Linked DNA regions of Homo sapiens: all the other regions are linked to region 3. Evidence: fine-mapped expression QTL. A gene starts in region 3. Each other region holds a variant in brackets. All regions are shown on one strand. Distances are from middle to middle. Region 1 overlaps LLGL1 (LLGL scribble cell polarity complex component 1). Region 2 overlaps TOP3A (DNA topoisomerase III alpha). Region 3 holds the start of TOP3A (DNA topoisomerase III alpha).

Evidence for each region. PIP is the estimated chance that this variant, and not a neighbour inherited with it, causes the effect.
Region 1: its variant is the best candidate, but not a certain one, in a credible set for the expression of TOP3A in thyroid (GTEx, PIP 0.63).
Region 2: its variant is the best candidate, but not a certain one, in a credible set for the expression of TOP3A in whole blood (INTERVAL, PIP 0.88).

What each region holds. Positions count from the first base shown.
Region 1 is chr17:18,227,027-18,232,983 of GRCh38, reverse strand. LLGL1 (LLGL scribble cell polarity complex component 1) reads right to left here. Exons shown (of 23, transcript NM_004140.4): 2 at 2,946-3,043; 3 at 408-489; 4 at 182-312. Among named protein-coding and RNA genes, the nearest start is that of LLGL1, 4.4 kb to the right of the region's middle. RefSeq lists enhancers at 796-1,629, 1,630-2,465. The variant T/C (reference allele first, on the strand shown) is at 3,319.
Region 2 is chr17:18,274,351-18,280,256 of GRCh38, reverse strand. It overlaps TOP3A (DNA topoisomerase III alpha), which reads left to right. Exons shown (of 19, transcript NM_004618.5): 18 at 1,900-2,582; 19 at 5,277-5,906. The coding sequence ends at 5,455. Among named protein-coding and RNA genes, the nearest start is that of MIEF2, 17 kb to the right of the region's middle. The variant G/TG (reference allele first, on the strand shown) is at 3,072.
Region 3 is chr17:18,311,559-18,317,358 of GRCh38, reverse strand. It overlaps TOP3A (DNA topoisomerase III alpha), which reads left to right and starts at 2,365. Exons shown (of 19, transcript NM_004618.5): 1 at 2,365-2,760. The coding sequence starts at 2,581. SMCR8 (SMCR8-C9orf72 complex subunit) reads right to left here and starts at 2,066. Exons shown (of 2, transcript NM_144775.3): 1 at 1-2,066. The coding sequence starts at 1,569. It also overlaps the pseudogene RPL7AP65 and the pseudogene RPL21P121. RefSeq lists enhancers at 2,006-2,055, 1,745-2,268, 2,396-2,745, 2,756-2,845, 2,793-3,316 and a silencer at 2,196-2,245.

The DNA.
Region 1 (5,957 bases), 84 kb after region 3:
AGTTCAGAGTATACCTCAGTAAAGCAGGGTCCAACAGCTGCAGCCTGGGACCCAGGCCCAGCTCAAGGCATCCCGCCCTGAACCGCTGCCCATCTCCATGCTGCCTTTGCACAGCAGGTTCCCACAGCCTCCCCCAGATCCTCCCTGCCCGGTGGCTGGCCCCAGCCAAGTTCTCCAGTACCTGGCACCATCAAAGCCGGGCCGGCTGGGCAGCTGGAAACTGAGTGCTTCTTCCAGGTGGGCACAGCCATTATGGTGGACAATCTCCCAGAGATGCAGACTGCTGTCATCAAGCAGGGACAGGAGGCGGCCCTGGTGTGTGAGCAGAGATGAAAACTAGGCTGGCCTAGGGGGATGAGTAGATATGGGGGCCACAGGGAGCTGGCTAGTGGGAAGCAGAGGCTCACCTGGCCGGTCAAGAAGTGCATCTGTGTGACAGTGGCTGCATCCCGGTGCAGGCCTGTGAACTCCACGCCAGGTGCACCATAGCTGAGGGTGGCAGGTCAAGGTGGAAATAGGCATAGACCAGCAAACCACAGTGAGGAAGACACCCAAGGCTCCTCCTTGACCCGGACTATTCCAGTGGGCCCCGGCATGGGCCTGACCATCCAGGAGTCCTCCCTGAAGAACGGAGGCCCCCTCCCTAAAGCTCCCACTCTGCACCCCTACAGTATCCCCAAGATCAGTGTGCAGGCTCCACTCACTCCTGCAAGTCAGGTGCTGCTATAGGACCTTCACTTCCCGTAAATTGGGCCAGTGACTCCCACTTTACAGGACTGTTGCAGATCAAGTGAGAATAAACACACCCAGCAGGCTTGGCCTCAGCCTGGTGAGAGGATGGGGCTCCGCTCCACTTCAGCTCCGTGTGTCTATGGGTTCTGGGAGCTGCGCCTTGCCGGATGGGATCAGGCAGGCCAGAGGTGCAAGGCCAGGCCTGGACAAGAAAGCCAGGGGGCAGAAGAGTCCAGGCTGCCTTTTCCCACAGCTTCAGGCCAAACTTCAGCCATGGGTAAGAAAACCCACCTCCTCTGGGCACGGTGGCTCGCTCCTGTAATCCCAGCACTTTGGGAGGCCGAGGCAGGTAGATCACAAGGTCAGGAGTTGAGGACCAGCCTGGCCAAGATGGTGAAACCTCGTCTCTACTAAAAACGCAAAAATTAGCCGGGCATGCTGGCAGGCACCTGTAATCCCAGCTATTTGGGAGGCTGAGGCAGAGAACTGCTTGAACCCGGGAGGCAAAGGTTGCAGTGAGCCAAAACTGTGCGACTGCACTCCAGCCTGGGCAACAAAGAGCAAGACTCCATCTCAAAAAAACAAAACAAAACAAAAAAAACCCACCTCCCTCCAAAGCAGGCAGCCAACAACTGCCATCATGAGGGAGGAGAGACTCCAGCCTGCCCATTTCACAGATGAGCACACAGACTTGGAGGGGGTGGATGACCTGCTTGAAGTGCCCAGTGTCAGTGCCTGAGTCCCGGCAACTCCAGGGCTGATGGTGGACAGCAGGGCCTGAGGGGGCCCCATGACAGAGGGTGCAGGGAGGAGTCAGCAACGTTGCCCCGGTGACAACACAGGAGCCGTTGCCTGGAGCTTGAGCTCAGATTCCCTACAGGAGCCTGGCGAGAAACTCCGAAGAAGGGACAAAAGAGGGGACAGGAGCAGCTGGGCGGGAACCAGGGTCGTCAAGGAGATGGGGCTGGCCTGGCAGGGGGAGGGGCAGCTTCTAGTGACCAGGGCTGGCCCTCTCCAGCCTCAGTTTCCCAACCCAAGGGGCTCCAGGCAGTGGCAGTCAGGGGAAAAAGGGAAGAGGACCCCGGGCTCCAGCCTCCTTTCTGAGGCTCAGTCTCCTCATCTGCACTTCAGGTTCTTTTTGAGCCTGAGGACAAGTGCACTGGAGACCCCAACACAGGAGGGACACCTGAAGGCTGCAGGGACACATGTGCGCACGCAGCGCAGCACCCACAGGAGTGGGAGCAGCAGGCCAGGCAGCGGAGCATGTGGGGCCCAGAGCACTGCCACACTCACCAACAGAGGCCGCTGGGGCCATGGGAGAGAAGGGGACATCTCAGCCCATCCACACTCCCCAGAGTAGGCAAAGAGCTCACAAACCACAGGCTCAGAGTCCCATCCCTGCCTGATCAGTGCCCCCAGTCCTGGGGTGAGGAGACCCCCATCCCACACCCTCCCCTTTCCCAGCACTGACACATTTTCTGGGAACTGATGTCTGAAACCAGGATACTGAAACCCAGAAGGCCACACAGGAGGGGTAGGGGTCAGCACCCCTCACCAAGCCGCCATCAGCCAGACCCTGGCACCTCGGCTTCCCCAAGAGCAGTTGGGGTGGGATTCTCCAGGGCTGGCAAGGAGACACTGAGCTGCCGGCCTGCCCCCACCCCCACCCCAGGCCTGCAGGGAAAATGCCCGCTTTGTGTGGCTCACACAGCCCATTGTGCAGCAGCCAGTATCCAGGTGGGGGCCGTGCTGTGCTCACCATGCCGAGCCTGGCACTGCCCCCAGGCCCCTTTGCTGAACACATGTGTCTTCACATTCACACATGTGTGCATCAGCTCACCAGGGCCCCCAGCCCACCTGCCACCCTCCATGGGTATCATAGCCCAGCCTTCTGCCTGGCCTCCCCAGAGTTGCTGGGACGATGGCAGGGTCGCCTAGGTAACTGGCTGGCTGACACGTAGCAAGGGACAGCTGTGCTACTGCAAACTGACCCCCCACCACCCGTCTCTCAGCAAAAGGACCCCATCATCTCTGCACAGTTGTCTCAGGTACAGAAGCCACGCCAACCTCCGCAGAAGCCCCCACTACTGCCCATCAGAGCACCTCTGTCCTCCTCTCGAGCTGGACACTGCCAAGACTGGGACCCCAGAGCACAGGGAACTACAGGCAGGTGGTCCTGAACAGACCCTGAACACCTGTCCTGCAAAGGATACATCTTGACAGCCCCAGACCTGGTGCCGATGGCCATGATGCGAAGTTCCGGGTCGAAGGCCAGGGCGCTGGGCTGATTGGGGAAGCCATGCTCCACAGTCTGCAAGGAGGGGAGGGCTGCTGGGGGTAAGCACTCCCAGGCACCTCTGCCATGGCCCACCCTGAGGCCCACCCCAAGGCAGCCTCCAGGGTCTGCAGCTGACACACTGGGGGTAGGAGGCAGGTCTACTTGCTCTGTGCCTCAGCGTCCTCAACTGTGAAATGGGTTATCATGCCTCCAGTTGGTGGGGAGGTGGCTAAACCCCTAGCCTCCACCATGACTGTACCGCGTGCATAGTCCACAGAGGCCCGCCCTTTGCCAAGCCCCTGTGCCCC[T/C]CAATGCACACAGGCTCATGTGGGCCCCACTGCATGGAGGCTCCAGCAACAAACAGGTGAAGCAAGGCTCACAGAGGTGCAGGCACTGATGAGGCCCCACCTGCTCCATGAAGGGCTCTGCACCCCATTTTTAGAGGCACAGACTAAAGCTTGCGGAGGAGTCCCGCAAGATGACCATGACACTCCCCAAACACAGGCCTGAGTGGAGGTCAGAGGTCAAGGGACAACATCCAGGATCAGCTAGGCAGAGGCTTTTGACTCCTCCCAGACACAGGGAGACAGAGGCCCAGAGAGGGGTAGCTTTCTGCCTGGACCCCGAAGGCATCCTCCCACCTCCCCACCTGCCAACAGCTGGGCAACATGACTCCCATAACCATCAGGGGCGGAGATGGTGTTAAGGGGGTCTGTGTGCCCAGAGTGTCGATGAAACAGCTCCCCACCCGCTCCCCTGCCCCTTTCACAGCACACCCTTTCTGCACCAGTCTCCTGTCTTTGGCCTGGCTGTGCCCTCCCTGGGAAGCCTGCACAGCTGAGCTCCAGCCCCATCCTGAACACCAGTGCAGGACACCCACGTGGGCCACTGGTAACTCCTTTTATCTTGTTGTTGTTATTTATTTTTCACTTTTACCACTGGTAATTCCTGACCCACTGCCTCAGGAAGATGCACATTTGTAAGAAACCCCAGTTCCCAGCCTGTAACGCGAACCTCCCTCCCTGCCTGCCTCTGCCCATCCAGGTGGGGACTGAGCCCTCTGGGCAGCTGGTTTGGTCACGGCCTAGCTGTCTGGCCTTGGGCAAGTCACAGTACTCTCCAAGACTCAGTACTCTCCAAGCTTCAGTCTCTCATCTGGGCCCTTGGGACAGTAAGCCCACCTAAGGACAGAGTTGGCGATTTGGCTGGGGCTTCTCTCTCCCACCAATAATACCACGCCCTTGCTGCACCTGACCTTGTCTAGCCAGTCCCTCGCTACAACCAGGGTCCAGAGACGGGACACTGCATCGCAAATCCCCACAGCCTTCCCATTTTACAAACGAGGAAAGGAGGTTACATGCACTGTCCAGCATCTGCTTCCCTCATACCCCACGTCCAGTCCATTTCTGAGCCCCATCAACTCAGTTTCAAAACACACAGAAGTCACCTCCCTCCCTGCTCCAGGCCCCACCGTCACGTGCCTGGATTGGTACTCACTACAGTCTGTTCCCACAGAGGCCAGAGGGATCCTATGAAAGCCACAGCCAGATCCTTGTCCCTCCCCTGCTCAGGATCCTCCTGGGGCTCCCAGCTAAGGGAGGCTTGTGCCTCAGGGCCTTTGCACCTACTGCCCCTCTGCCTGGAACGCACTTCCTCCAGCACTTCCTGTCGCTCAGGAGTAATCTCCTCAGAGAAGCCTCCCAAGGCCACCCTGGCTGCAGCAGCCGCCCTGGCCACACCTCTCACCCCCTCGCCCTACTTTATTTGATCCACAGCACTGGCTACCATCCCAACTACAGTCTATTTTACTTTTTTGTTTTGGCTTTTCACTGTCTCCTGCACAACTATATCAGCCACCTGAGTTAACAGGTATTTGTCCTTTTTGGTAACTACTGTTGTCCCCAGCACCTTGGAGACCTCACACACAGTGGGGCTCAGTATTAACAGAGAAGGCACATTCCACAGGCGATGTGTGGGCTGGACTGGGATTTGAACCCAAGACTCAGAGTCCAAAGTCCCTGCTCACTCCTGACCTGTCTCCCACCCCCTAAGCTCAGGAATCAGGGGCCTATTCCCTAGCGATCACCTATTACCCACTTAGGTGACTAAGTCCCTTCCCCAAGACCACCCCACTTTCCACCACTGCTGCCCACGCTTCATCCTCAGCGGAGGGCCCTTACTTTCCGCCACCCCAAGGCTAGCCAGAGTGGGCTGAGCTTCACCCCCATCTGTCTCCAGCCCCCACTGCACACCCCAATTCACTGGCTGAAGAAATGACATTTAGGCCAGGCATGGCAGCTCATGTCTGTAATCCTAGCACTTTGGGAAGCCAACATGGATGGATAGATAGCTTGAACCCAGGAGTTCGAGACCAGCCTGGGCAACATGGTGAAACCCCATCTCTACAAAAAATACAAAAACTAGCCGGGCATGGTGACACGAGCCTGTAGTCCCAGCTTCAGGAGGCTGAGATGGGAGGATCACCTGAGCCAGGGAGTTGTGAGGCTGCAGTGGACTGTGATTGTGCCACTGCACTCCAGCCTGGGTGAGAGTGAGACCCCATTTCAAAAAAAAAAAAGTGACATTTAGCCCTGTGCCTGTTGCTGCCTTTCCCTGAAGGGCCATTCTCCTCTCACCTCACCCTCACAGCCTCCCCGGCACAGAAAATAGGTGCCATCTGGGGACCACGGAGCACCAGCTTCCCTTCTGGGCCCCTCTCAGGTTCCTAGCAGGTTCTCAGCCACCGTGTGAGGGTCCTGGCAGCTCTCATCGGCAATCACTGCAGACCTAGGCAGGGAAACCCTGAGACATCCCAGTGCCTCCACTACTCCAGGTCCAGCCGTCCCAGAGCCTCCTCCAAGACAAGTGTCTCCTCAAGGCAGCCCAGGGCGCCTGGCACAACACTGGCCCAGGACCACAGCAGCCCCTTGGAAAAATCCCTGCCCCT
Region 2 (5,906 bases), 37 kb after region 3:
GGCTTAGGAAATTATTCACATATTAAATACAACATCCAAGCTTGGGCTACGTAGCAAGACCCCATCTCTTTAAAAAAAAAAATTTTTATTTAAAAAAAAATTTTTTTTAAGACAGTCTCGCTGGGTTGCCCAGGCTGAAGTGCAGTGGCGCAGTCTTGACTCACTGCAACCTCCGCCTTCTGGGTTGAAGTGATTCTTCTGCCTCAGCGTCCTGAGTAGCTGGGATTACAGGCATGCACCACTATGCCTGACCACTTTTTGTATTTTTAGTAGAGACAGGGTTTCACCATGTTGGCCAGGCTGGTCTCGAACTCCTGGCCCCAAGTGATCCACCCACCTTGGCCTCCCAAAGTGCTGGGATTATAGATGTGAGCCACTGCACCTGGCCAAAAAAAATTTTAAATTAGCCAGATGTGGTGACATATGCCTATAGGCCAAGCTGGTCAGGAGGCTGAGGCAGGAGGATCGCTTGATCCTAGAGGTCTAGGCTGTAGTGAGCCATGATTTCACCACTGCTCTCCAGCCTGGAATGACAGAGCCAGACCCTGTCTCTAGAAATAAATGAATAGGCCGAGCCTGGTGGCTCAGGCCTGTAATCCCAGCATTTTGGGAGGCCGAGACAGGCGGATCACGAGGACAGGAGATCGAGACCATCCTGGCTAACATGGTGAGACACTGTCTCTACTAAAAATACAAAAAATGGCCAGGCGTGGTGGCTCACGCCTGTAATCCCAACACTTTGGGAGGCCGAGGTGGGTGGATCACGAGGTCAGGAGATCGAGACCATCCTGGCTAACATGGTGAAACCCCGTCTCTACTAAAAATACAAAAAATCAGCCAGGCGTACTGGTGGGCGCCTGTAGTCCCAGCTACTCGGCAGGCTGAGGCAGGAGAATGGCGTGAACCCAGGAGGCAGAACTTTCAGTGAGCCGAGATTGCACCACTGCACACCAGCCTGGGCGACAGAATGATACTCTGTCTCAAAAAAAAAAATTTTAATAATTTATTTCTAGTAAATGCATTGCATACTACTGTAAATAACTTGTTTTTTAGGGTAATAAAATACCTATTTTCAAAAGCAAAATAATAATGACATTAATGACATTGTTTTACATTTTGCAATTTGTATGTCTGGCTTAATAGAAGAGAGCTGGATTCCCGTATCTGCTTCTGCAGTCAGCCTGCTGAGTCATTGCATGTGCTGGAACCTCCAGGAAACTCCGTTGTATACACATGGAAGAATAAGAGCAAAATAGACATAACCTCTTAGAATTTTTTTTGAGACAGAGTCTTGCTCTGTCACCAGGCTGGAGTGCAGTGGCACAATCTTGGCTCACTGCAACCTCTGACTCCCAGGTTCAAGAGGTTCTCCTGCCTCAGCCTCCCGAGTAGCTGGGACTACAGGCGCGTGCCACCATGCCCAGCTAATTTTTGTATTTTTGGTAGAGATGGGGTTTCACCATGTTGGTCAGGATGGTCTCAATCTCTTGATTTTGTGATCCGCCCGCCTCAGCCTCCCAAAGTGCTGGGATTACAGGTTTGAGCCACCACACCTGGCCTATAAAAGAGTTTTGCACTCTCCTTGAAAGGGCTCAGGCACCCTGGAACCACACTTGGAGAACTGCTGATACAGAGACATGGGACTTCTCAGAGGTGTTTTTATTTTAGTGAATTACTGGGATCTTAGATTTCATCTGCACTGTTTCCCACTGTCCACTCCTGTGATGACTGGTGGGGGCTTGTGGTGGGCTGATAGAGGGCCTCACAGGGGACTTGTGTGGGCTTCCTGATGCATAAGGAATGGTGGAGAGAGGCCTAGGGCTAAAGCAGCCCTCACTGGACTAAGGAGAAGCTGGCATCTGGTTGTTAATGTTTTTTCTCATCTTCTGGCCTCACTAGGTTAAAGTTAAAGTTTAAGCGCGGTAGCCTTCCCCCGACCATGCCTCTGGAGTTTGTTTGCTGCATCGGCGGATGCGACGACACCCTGAGGGAGATCCTGGACCTGAGATTTTCAGGGGGCCCCCCCAGGGCTAGCCAGCCCTCTGGCCGCCTGCAGGCTAACCAGTCCCTGAACAGGATGGACAACAGCCAGCACCCCCAGCCTGCTGACAGCAGACAGACTGGGTCCTCAAAGGCTCTGGCCCAGACCCTCCCACCACCCACGGCTGCTGGTGAAAGCAATTCTGTGACCTGCAACTGTGGCCAGGAGGCTGTGCTGCTCACTGTCCGTAAGGAGGGCCCCAACCGGGGCCGGCAGTTCTTTAAGTGCAACGGAGGTAGCTGCAACTTCTTCCTGTGGGCAGACAGCCCCAATCCGGGAGCAGGAGGGCCTCCTGCCTTGGCATATAGACCCCTGGGCGCCTCCCTGGGATGCCCACCAGGCCCAGGGATCCACCTAGGTGGGTTTGGCAACCCTGGTGATGGCAGTGGTAGTGGCACATCCTGCCTTTGCAGCCAGCCCTCCGTCACACGGACTGTGCAGAAGGATGGACCCAACAAGGGGCGCCAGTTCCACACATGTGCCAAGCCGAGAGAGCAGCAGTGTGGCTTTTTCCAGTGGGTCGATGAGAACACCGCTCCAGGTGAGGCAGGGAGGGGCATGGGAATCCCTGCCTTCAGTTTTCAGGTGTTTACCTCAGAGACTGGGGACAGCAGAAAGAAGGCAAGGCAGGGTCATGGTGGGATTGGGAGGGGCACCTGGGCTGCCTTGCACCTCACTTTTCCTCACTTGATCACTTTCAGCAAGGTGATAATTGTACAGTCCTCATTCCAAATTAAAGGGTAGCTACCAGTAATGGTGTCACTTGCCCTATGCCTGGCACTATGCTAAGTATACTTCCTGTGCATCTTCCATCCTCATTGGGTAAGCATTATGATCACAATTTTACTTATAAGTGAGAAAGGTGAGACCCAGACACATGAAGTGGGTATTGCTCAGGGTCCCATAGCAACAGACACCAGGATGAGTACATAGGCCTTCCCAGTCCCATGGCCATGTGCCCTTGCAGCTGTCGTGACCCTTGGCAGACCATAAGCATCAGCCTCATTTCTTTTTTTTTTTTTTTTTTTTT[G/TG]GAGACTGAGTTTTGCTCTTGTTGCCCAGACTGGAGTGCAATGGTGCAATCTTGGTTCACTGCAACTTCCACCTCCCAGGTTCAAATGATTCTCCTGCCTCAGCCTCCCAGGTAGCTGGGATTACAGGCATGCACCACCACGCACAGCTAATTTTGTATTTTTAGTAGAGACGGGGGTTTCACCCTGTTGGTTAGGCTGGTCTCGAACTCCACCTCAGGTGATCCACCTGCCTTGGCCTCTCAAAGTGCTGGGATTACAGGCGTGAGCCACCGTGCCTGGCCCAGCCTCATTTCTTCAGATGAAGATGCCAACCCCGATGATATTTAGGAACCTGCCCAGGGTGACACAGCTTGGGCCAATGTCCGGGAACTGGGTGTCATGAGAAGTGGCACCTGGACATTGCATCAAGTTGAATGGTGTACGTGGAGGCACTTTGAATGGTTCCTCCTGCTCCAGTGCACAACAGAGCTTAAGTAGCTGAGAATGACCCAAAGGCCTAGTGGGAGCTTTGGAGTTGAGCAAATCTGGTTCCAAAGCTCAGCAGTATAACCTTGAACAAATGACTTAGCCTCTCTGCCTCAAGTTTGCTCAACAAGATGGTCCCTGCCTACATTCATAGGGTTCCTGTTTTAGAAAGGAGTTTAGTCTCAGACTATGATTCTTACACATGTGTCACTAGCCCGGCATGCACAGAAAGAAACCAGAGGTTTGGTAAAAACTGTGGGACTTGGAACTGGCTACCAGTGCTAATGGGGCCCAGAGATGGCCATTGCAGTGAGAGACCCACATTTGAAGTGAGATGCAGTCTGGCCTCTTGTCTCCCCACTTGGAAGGACATGGTATCTGACCTCCAGGCTGGCTGACTGACTGTCCTGGGTAAATGAGCAGCTGGTCTGGAAAGGCCTGTTGAGGGGACAGGAAGGGATCCAGAGCTGGACTTTCCTGCATGGAGGTGGGCCGCAGGTTGCCGGTCATAGGCTGCTTGTCTTTCCCACCCTACCACACAGGCCAGCTTGCTTGGGTTTCTGCCTCTGTAAAAAGGGCCGGCATGAAAGTCCACTTACCAAGTGAGTGTGGGACAATGTCTCCAAAGCTTAGGATTCTTGAGGGAGAGGTGTCAGGTAACATAAGGCAGCAGGCACATCGCACCTCAACCTTACAGAGTTGGACACAGTGTGAAGGGAGGCTGGCTGGTGGGGTGTACATGGCTGTATAAAAACTGATTCAGCCGGTCGGGCGCGGTGGCTCATGCCTGTAATCCCAGCACTTTGGGAGGCCGAGGCGGGTGGATCACGAGGTCAGGAGATCGAGACCATCCTGGCTAACACAGTGAAACCCCGTCTCTACTAAAAATACAAACAATTAGCCGGGCATGGTGGTCGGTCCCTGTAGTCCCAGCTACTCTCGGGAGGCTGAGACAGGACAATGGCGTGAACCCGGGAGGCGGAGCTTGCAGTGAGCCAAGATTGCACCACTGCATTCCAGCCTAGGCGACAGAGCCAGACTCCACCTCAAAAAAAAAAGGCCGGGCACGGTGGCTCACGCCTGTAATCCCAGCACTTCGGGAGGCCAAGGCGGGCGGATCACAAGGTTAGGAGATCGAGACCATCCTGGCTAACATGATGAAACCCGTCTCTACTAAAAATACAAAAAATAAAGTAGCCGGGCGTGGTGGCGGGTGCCTGTAGTCCCAGCTACTCGGGAGGCTGAGGCAGGAGAATGGCGTGAACCCGGGAGGTGGAGCTTGCAGTGAGTGGAGATCACGCCACTGCACTCCACACTCCAGCCTGGGTGACAGAGCGAAGACTCCATCTCAAAAAAAAAAAAAAAAAAAAAAAAAGTTGGTTCAGCCTTATCGTCTGCTGCTCTTTTTTTTTTTTTTTTTTTTTTTGAGACAGGGTCTTGCTCTGTTGCCCAGGCTGGAGTGCAGTGGTGTGATCACAGCTCACTGTAGCCTCCCAGGCTCAGGCATCCTCCCGAGTAGCTGTGACCACAGGCATACACCACACCTGGCTAATTTTTGCATTTTTTAAAGACAAGGTTTCACCATGTTGCCCAGGCTGATCTTGAACTCCTGGGCTCAAGCAATCCTCCTCCCTCAGCTTCCTAAAGTGCTGGGATTACAGGCATGAGCCACCGTGTTCAGGACTTGCCACTTCTGCATGTCAGTTCTAACCTCACCCCTCCCCTGACTCTCCCGACAGGGACTTCTGGAGCCCCGTCCTGGACAGGAGACAGAGGAAGAACCCTGGAGTCGGAAGCCAGAAGCAAAAGGCCCCGGGCCAGTTCCTCAGACATGGGGTCCACAGCAAAGAAACCCCGGAAATGCAGCCTTTGCCACCAGCCTGGACACACCCGTCCCTTTTGTCCTCAGAACAGATGAGCTCAGGGTAGGGTAGAGAACGCCACTTTCTCAGACCTGTCCCCTTTGTGTTTAGAAATGAGTTAACCAGGACCAAGTGGCCATTTAGTGTCCTGGAAACTTAGAGGACAGTGTTGGCCTTTGGAGTCGGGCCTTCTTGTGTTAAGGGGCACAAGGTCCAGATCACTCTGGAGCAGGCCAGCTCTGCTGGACAGTGACCCTCTTCCCAGGCCTCAGGAGTGACCATAGCCACTGCTGAAAAGTCACGCAGCTGCTCCCTCGGACCCCCCAAGGATGGTTGCTGTTAGCAGAGGATTGGTGCAGTCCCAGCTGAAGCCCACTGTGTGCCAAAGGAAGAAGCTCCCAGGGCTGCTTCCTTCACCTGCAGAAAGCCCCAAGTGAGCCACCAGCACTCATGGGGCAGTCCCTGTCCAGGCTGCCCAGGGCTTCTCATAGACGTCCTGAGAAGGAC
Region 3 (5,800 bases):
GCAGGTACTGAGGACTTCAATACTGTCCTCGCTGATGGTCCTGTGGCTGACTGCTTTGCTCCGGACCACCTGGGGGCTCAATGGTACTGTGAGGCTTGCCTGGCTGTCAGATTTAGAAAGCACGGAGGTGGATTTCTCCGTGCCCAAAACTTCAATACTTTCACCACTGCTGATACTCCCTTTCATATCCATATCCAGGTAGTCCAAGTTTTCCTGGGGGTCGAAACTGCTCAACTCAGTCACTTCCACTTCCTTGTACTCCTCATCTCCCAGTTCCTGCTCCATCTTGATCAACACAGACTCCACACTGGACTTGTAAGAACCAACACTAATTAACACTTTAGGAATTGGGCATTCTTCTAGAGAACTGGAAGGCGGCCTGTCTTGACTGGGCTTAGAGGGTATGCTTTCTTGTTTCTCCACCATCCTGTCATCGACCTCCACAAAGTCTTCAAAGAGAAAGTTTGTTATATGCTGTTGTTTTAGAAGTGCTCTATCAATCTGACTGGTCAGGAGGTAACACAGGTCTCCTCTGAACATGTGTTCAATGTGGCTGAGCTGAGCCAGGGTCTGGGTGAAATATTCAGTGTCACAGAGCTCCTCCAAGGTCTTCAACTTCTTGTCAAAACACTTGGTGGACTTTGCTTTGATAAGTTTTGGGGTGTAGGCTGGTCTGCAGGTGTAAAGGTCTGTGTCGGCAGACTCATCAGGGTTAGAGGTAGTGGATGCCTGGCTGGCCTGATCCTGGATGTGCTCCATCTCACCAGGACACAAATCATGCCCCTTCAACTTCCGATGAGGGTATGAGCGGATCTGCTTCAGCAGGTCTTGATGTTCAATGATGGACTTCTCCACACTGGCCAGTTCATTGGCTTTCTCAATTGCCTGAGATGAGTAAAAGCCTTTGTCGTTGGCTTTCTTCTGGATCTCCGTTTCTGTGTGTAGCACTGTCCTGGTGTAATCCAAGTCTTTCAGCTTTTTTTCAAGTTCCCCAGCAAATGCCTTCCTGTTGCCAGTCTTCAAGCACTCAGAAGCTCTGGAAAATTCGGCTGAAAGCTCCTGGAACTGCTGCATGATTTTATGCTGGTCTGCAGAGATATAAGCCATGCAAAACGGCCTCACGAAGCCACGGGCCTCCAGGTCGTATAGGGTAAGGTGGTGCACGTATGCAAAGGCGCCCTCCTTAGAATCTCCCAGCACCACCTTGGAGTCCTCCACGAAGTTCAGCTTGGGGTAGGCAGATCCAGGAGGATGGCCCACGAAGGAAGCCTGGTAATCCACAGACATGATACGCAGGGAGAAGTAATTGAGATCAAAAGTGCCAAAAACTTTGGTGTCATTGGGGATGGTCAGTAAGGGTTGGGGTCCCACCTGCTCAGAGAACTCGGAAATAAGAATGAAGTCCCTCGAAAACTTGGCCCCGGACAGTTTTGACCAGGGGTTAGCACCCTGACTGGCGAAGGGGAAGAGCGGCACCGAGTACTCCTCAGGCAGGGCCGGCTCATTGTAAGGCTCTTCTTCATACTCTTCCTCTTTGGTGAAGGCCACTACGTCAGGGGCGCTGATCATATTTCCAGATATATGAAGAAAACATTGAGAGGAAGTGGGAAAGAATGCGGTGTTAATCGACGCGCAGAAGGCAGGCCTCCGGAGAAGGAAGTGAAGCCCTTACGGCCTTCTTTGCGACTCCCCGAACCCGGGGTCCTAGGCTGCTTCTCACACACCCGAGGAGAAGAACTCTAGCAGCCCCCTCACAGTTGTAGCTCCTCCGGAGCTCTCTGAGGCCTCATGAACGCCAAGGCCGCAGGCCCAACTGCCCTTCTCTTCTTCGTCCGGCGAGCGCGGCCAGCACAAGAAACCTGCTGCGAAATCACCTGCACTCTCCGGAACCCACTGCGACAGCAAAAGCCCCCGCTCTGAACAAGGCTTAACGCGAGGCTACGGGACGCCGCAGGGGTCAGCCAAGCGCTGCTGCCCCTCACTGCCCGAGGGCAGAAACCGTCGCGGCTCCTAGGACGCCACAACCCGGATCCTGCTACCGCGGCGCCGCCATCTTGACATCACATGACTCCTGGTGTCCGCGCCGCGTGACCCGGAAGCGTCCTCGTAGACTTCCGAGCAGGAGATTAAAAAGTCATGAGAAAGAGGCCTTGGATGGGAGTGTCTGGCGGCTCCCCGCAAGAAGGAGTCCGATTAACCAACCACTGCCGGGAAGGAGGGGAAAGAGGGGCGGAGTGAGACGGGGGCGGCGGGAAGGTGGCAGAGGGGAACGTGCTTGGACGAGGGGCGCGGGACAGTCTGGGAGTTGTAGTTCCAGGTCGCTGTGGGGCGCGCGCCTGGCGGAAGTAGCTGGAGAAGGCGGGCGGAAGTTCCACGCCAAGATACTGGATTCGGTGCTGAGGCGGCGGCTGCGGCACGGGAAAGGCTCAGTGACTGAAGCTCCAAAGGCCAGCAGGCTGGTGGGGACGTGACCGAAGCGAGGCTCTGGTTCCCTTTCGGTGGGCGCCATTTGAGCCTCATCTCTGGCTTCCCCAGGATGCGCCGGCAGCCGGGGAGCGGCTCCGGGCGCGAGGTCTGAGGATGATCTTTCCTGTCGCCCGCTACGCGCTCCGGTGGCTGCGACGGCCCGAAGACCGTGCCTTTTCCCGCGCCGCCATGGAGATGGCCCTCCGAGGCGTGCGGAAAGTCCTCTGTGTGGCCGAAAAAAACGACGCGGCCAAGGGGATCGCCGACCTGCTGTCAAACGGTCGCATGAGGCGGGTAAGAAAGCGCGTTCCGATCAGCTGCGTGCCTTAAGGGAGGCCCACCGAGCGGGACAGCGTGGTGGGCGCCAAGAATCGAGATGAAGGCGATTATCTCCCATTTCTCAGGCCTCACTGCCCCTCGTCTGGATTATTGCAGTGGCCTCCTGTCTGCTCTCGGACTGGAGTGCATTTTAAAACGTAGTTGATACATCTCACTCATTTGCGTGGAAACCTTTTGTTTTGCTTGCGCTTAGCAGGTTCCCAAACTTGTCTGATTCTCGGAATCGCCTCGGGCGCTGGCTGCCCTTCGGGTCTTGTGTGAGGCTGGGGAAGTGTGTATTTTACTGTTTTTCCCTAGAGATTCAGAAATTCATTTGGGAACTACTGACCAGATTCCCTTAACTTGGCATTCAAGCCCTGCCCGATCGTTCCCCAGCCAACCTAGCCCTCCCCATCCTGTGCCACAGCCACTGCATTCTACAGCCCTTGTGACTTTCCAGCCTCACAGTGCACACTTACAGCAACACGGTAAGGTTTGGGGATTAGATTTGAAGTCAGCCCTGTTCCTACCCGAATGAACTGATTCTGAGAGAGGTAAGTGGTAAGAATGTGTTCTACACACACGGGAGGCACAAACGCAAGGGAGGATAAGAAAAAGTTTCATAAAGGAGGTGCCACGGGAGACATAAAGAGCTGTCCAGGAAAATATCTCAGATAACAAAAGTAGATCCTGAAATGGTTTTCTGGAGAACTTTTCTAAGAGCATGGGTGGAAGTTCCCTGCTCATTTTTCTTTAGTTCCCAGGGTCCTAAGACCTGTTTCCAGATCAAGGATAGTGGGAGTGGAGCCAGGGTTGTGTGAATGCTGGCTGACAGCTTTACCTGTTTCCAGTGCTAGAAGTCCTGGTGACCAGCCCCAAGGTTTGTCTACTTCTAGACAATGAAGTAGACATTGAAAAATGGTTCTCCTACGCCTAACTTCTTATCCTTCAAGGCTCTGCTGAATTCATTCTCTCTCTCTCCCTTTTTTTTTTTTTTTTTTAAGCAATCCAGAGGTCTTGTATTTATCTATTTTTACCCTATCATACCATGAATCCATAGGGAATAGGTTCCAGCGGCTCAGGCTCTTTTCCATTGGTTCTCACAAAGTGTACTTCCCTCAATGGAACAGGCTGGCACTTCAGGTGAACCCTTTCTCTTTGACTTGCTTCTTTTTTGATCATTTTCCTTCACACATTTCAGGAAAGATCTTGGTTCTTAGAGTGCTTAATATGCTCAATAGAAACATTAATTCTTTGGGCAAGAATCTAGCCCTTGTTCGCAGCAGTGCCAACAGCATGCTGGGTAACATAGACTTTTCCAGTTCTGCCATGTAACATTTGTGGGTCATTCCCTTTTGAACAGTATGCATTCTCACGAAGTCCTCAATATCACCTTCATTGTAGATTCTGGTGTCTGTGGCCAGAGAAACTCCATATTTTTGTTTTGTTTTGTTTGTTTGTTTTGAGATGGAGCTTTGCTCTTGTTGCCCAGCCTGGAGTGCAATGGTGTGATCTCAGCTCACTGCAACCTCCGCCTCCCGGGTTCAAGCGATTCTCCTGCCTCAGCCTCCCTAGTAGCTGGGATTACAGGTGCCTGTCACCATGCCCAGCTAATTTTTTGTATTTTTAGTAGTTTCACTGTGTTGGCCAGGATGGTCTTGAACTCCTGACTTCAGGTGAGCCACCCGCCTTAGCCTCCCAAAGTGTTAGGGTTACAGGCGTGAGCCACCGTGCCCAGCTCGAACTCCATGTTTTCTATAAGGCCAGGAGAACATACATCAGATGCCTCGTCCTCTTTTCCTTTGTGTTCGTCATTTTGGCAAATTACTCCAAGATGGCAGTTCCAGCCAAAAGGAAAGACTTTTCTTGGAAAGAGAATTTTTATTTTTATGTACAGAAAACACAACAGTGTGTACTTAACCCAGTTTAGTGGCAAATTCTTTAGCCTTTGCCTTTTCTAGGTTGGTAATGCAAGCTACAGATTTTGGACCCAGGGCATTGCCTCCCCAGTGACAGCAGATCTCATATGTCGTTGTAATTTGTCCCACCAGCTTAGCCAGAGCTCCTTTGTCTACCAGAAAGTTAACCTTTGTGAAGGTGACAGTGGTGCAGGTCTTCCTGTGGAATTTGACACCACAGTCTTGACGGTGCAGTAGAGAATCCCCATCTTAGGACACAGCACAGGCAGGAAGACAACCAGCTCAATGGGATCCACCACCAGCTGACCCTTCATGCTCTCTACCAAGTTGGTGACGGTGTCAACCCCTGCTCGAAGTGTAGGTGGTCTCTTAGTAGCGACATCCCCTTTGCTGGAAGCTTTCTTCTCAGCCTGGGCCAACGGTTTCGATCTCATCCCTTGCTCTGTCTCTTGTCTGTACTGTGGGCCAGCTTAAGCAATTGAGTAGCTTAAGTTTGGTAGTCTGAGGCCTGGGTGAACTGGTCAATCCCAGGTGGCACATCAGCCACTTATAGAGTACAGCGGCTCTGCCGCAGCAGCCATTTATAGCGGGACTATTTGACAAAGTGGGTGAGGCCCTTAGGCTAGATATCCAATGCCAAAATTATTAGGGCTTTTCTCAAATGGGATTTACCACCTTTTTGGCCTACTGCTGCTCCATGACAACAGGGGCCAGGGCCACTTCTTCCCCTTGGCCATCTTTCCTTTTGGCATCTGGGGCGGCTAGAGGAGAGAGGCTGCTGAAATGTCTCATCTTCAAGGAATCCTTCCCTCACCACCTGTTCCCCCACACTAGGTCAGAGACCCTTACTGACATGCTGTCATAGCACTCTATTCTACTTGAAAGGCATCTACTAGTTACAGTTAAATAATGGGATGTGCGATCATTTATTTGATTTTTGTCACTGCCTCTCCTTGGACTCTAAACTCCAAAGGACAGTGATTATATTTTGTTAATTGCTATGTCCTAACGCCTAATATGGTGTCTGGAATGCAGGAAACTTTCAATAAATATTAATACTTGGGCTGAGCGCAGCGGCTCATGCCTGTAATCCCAGC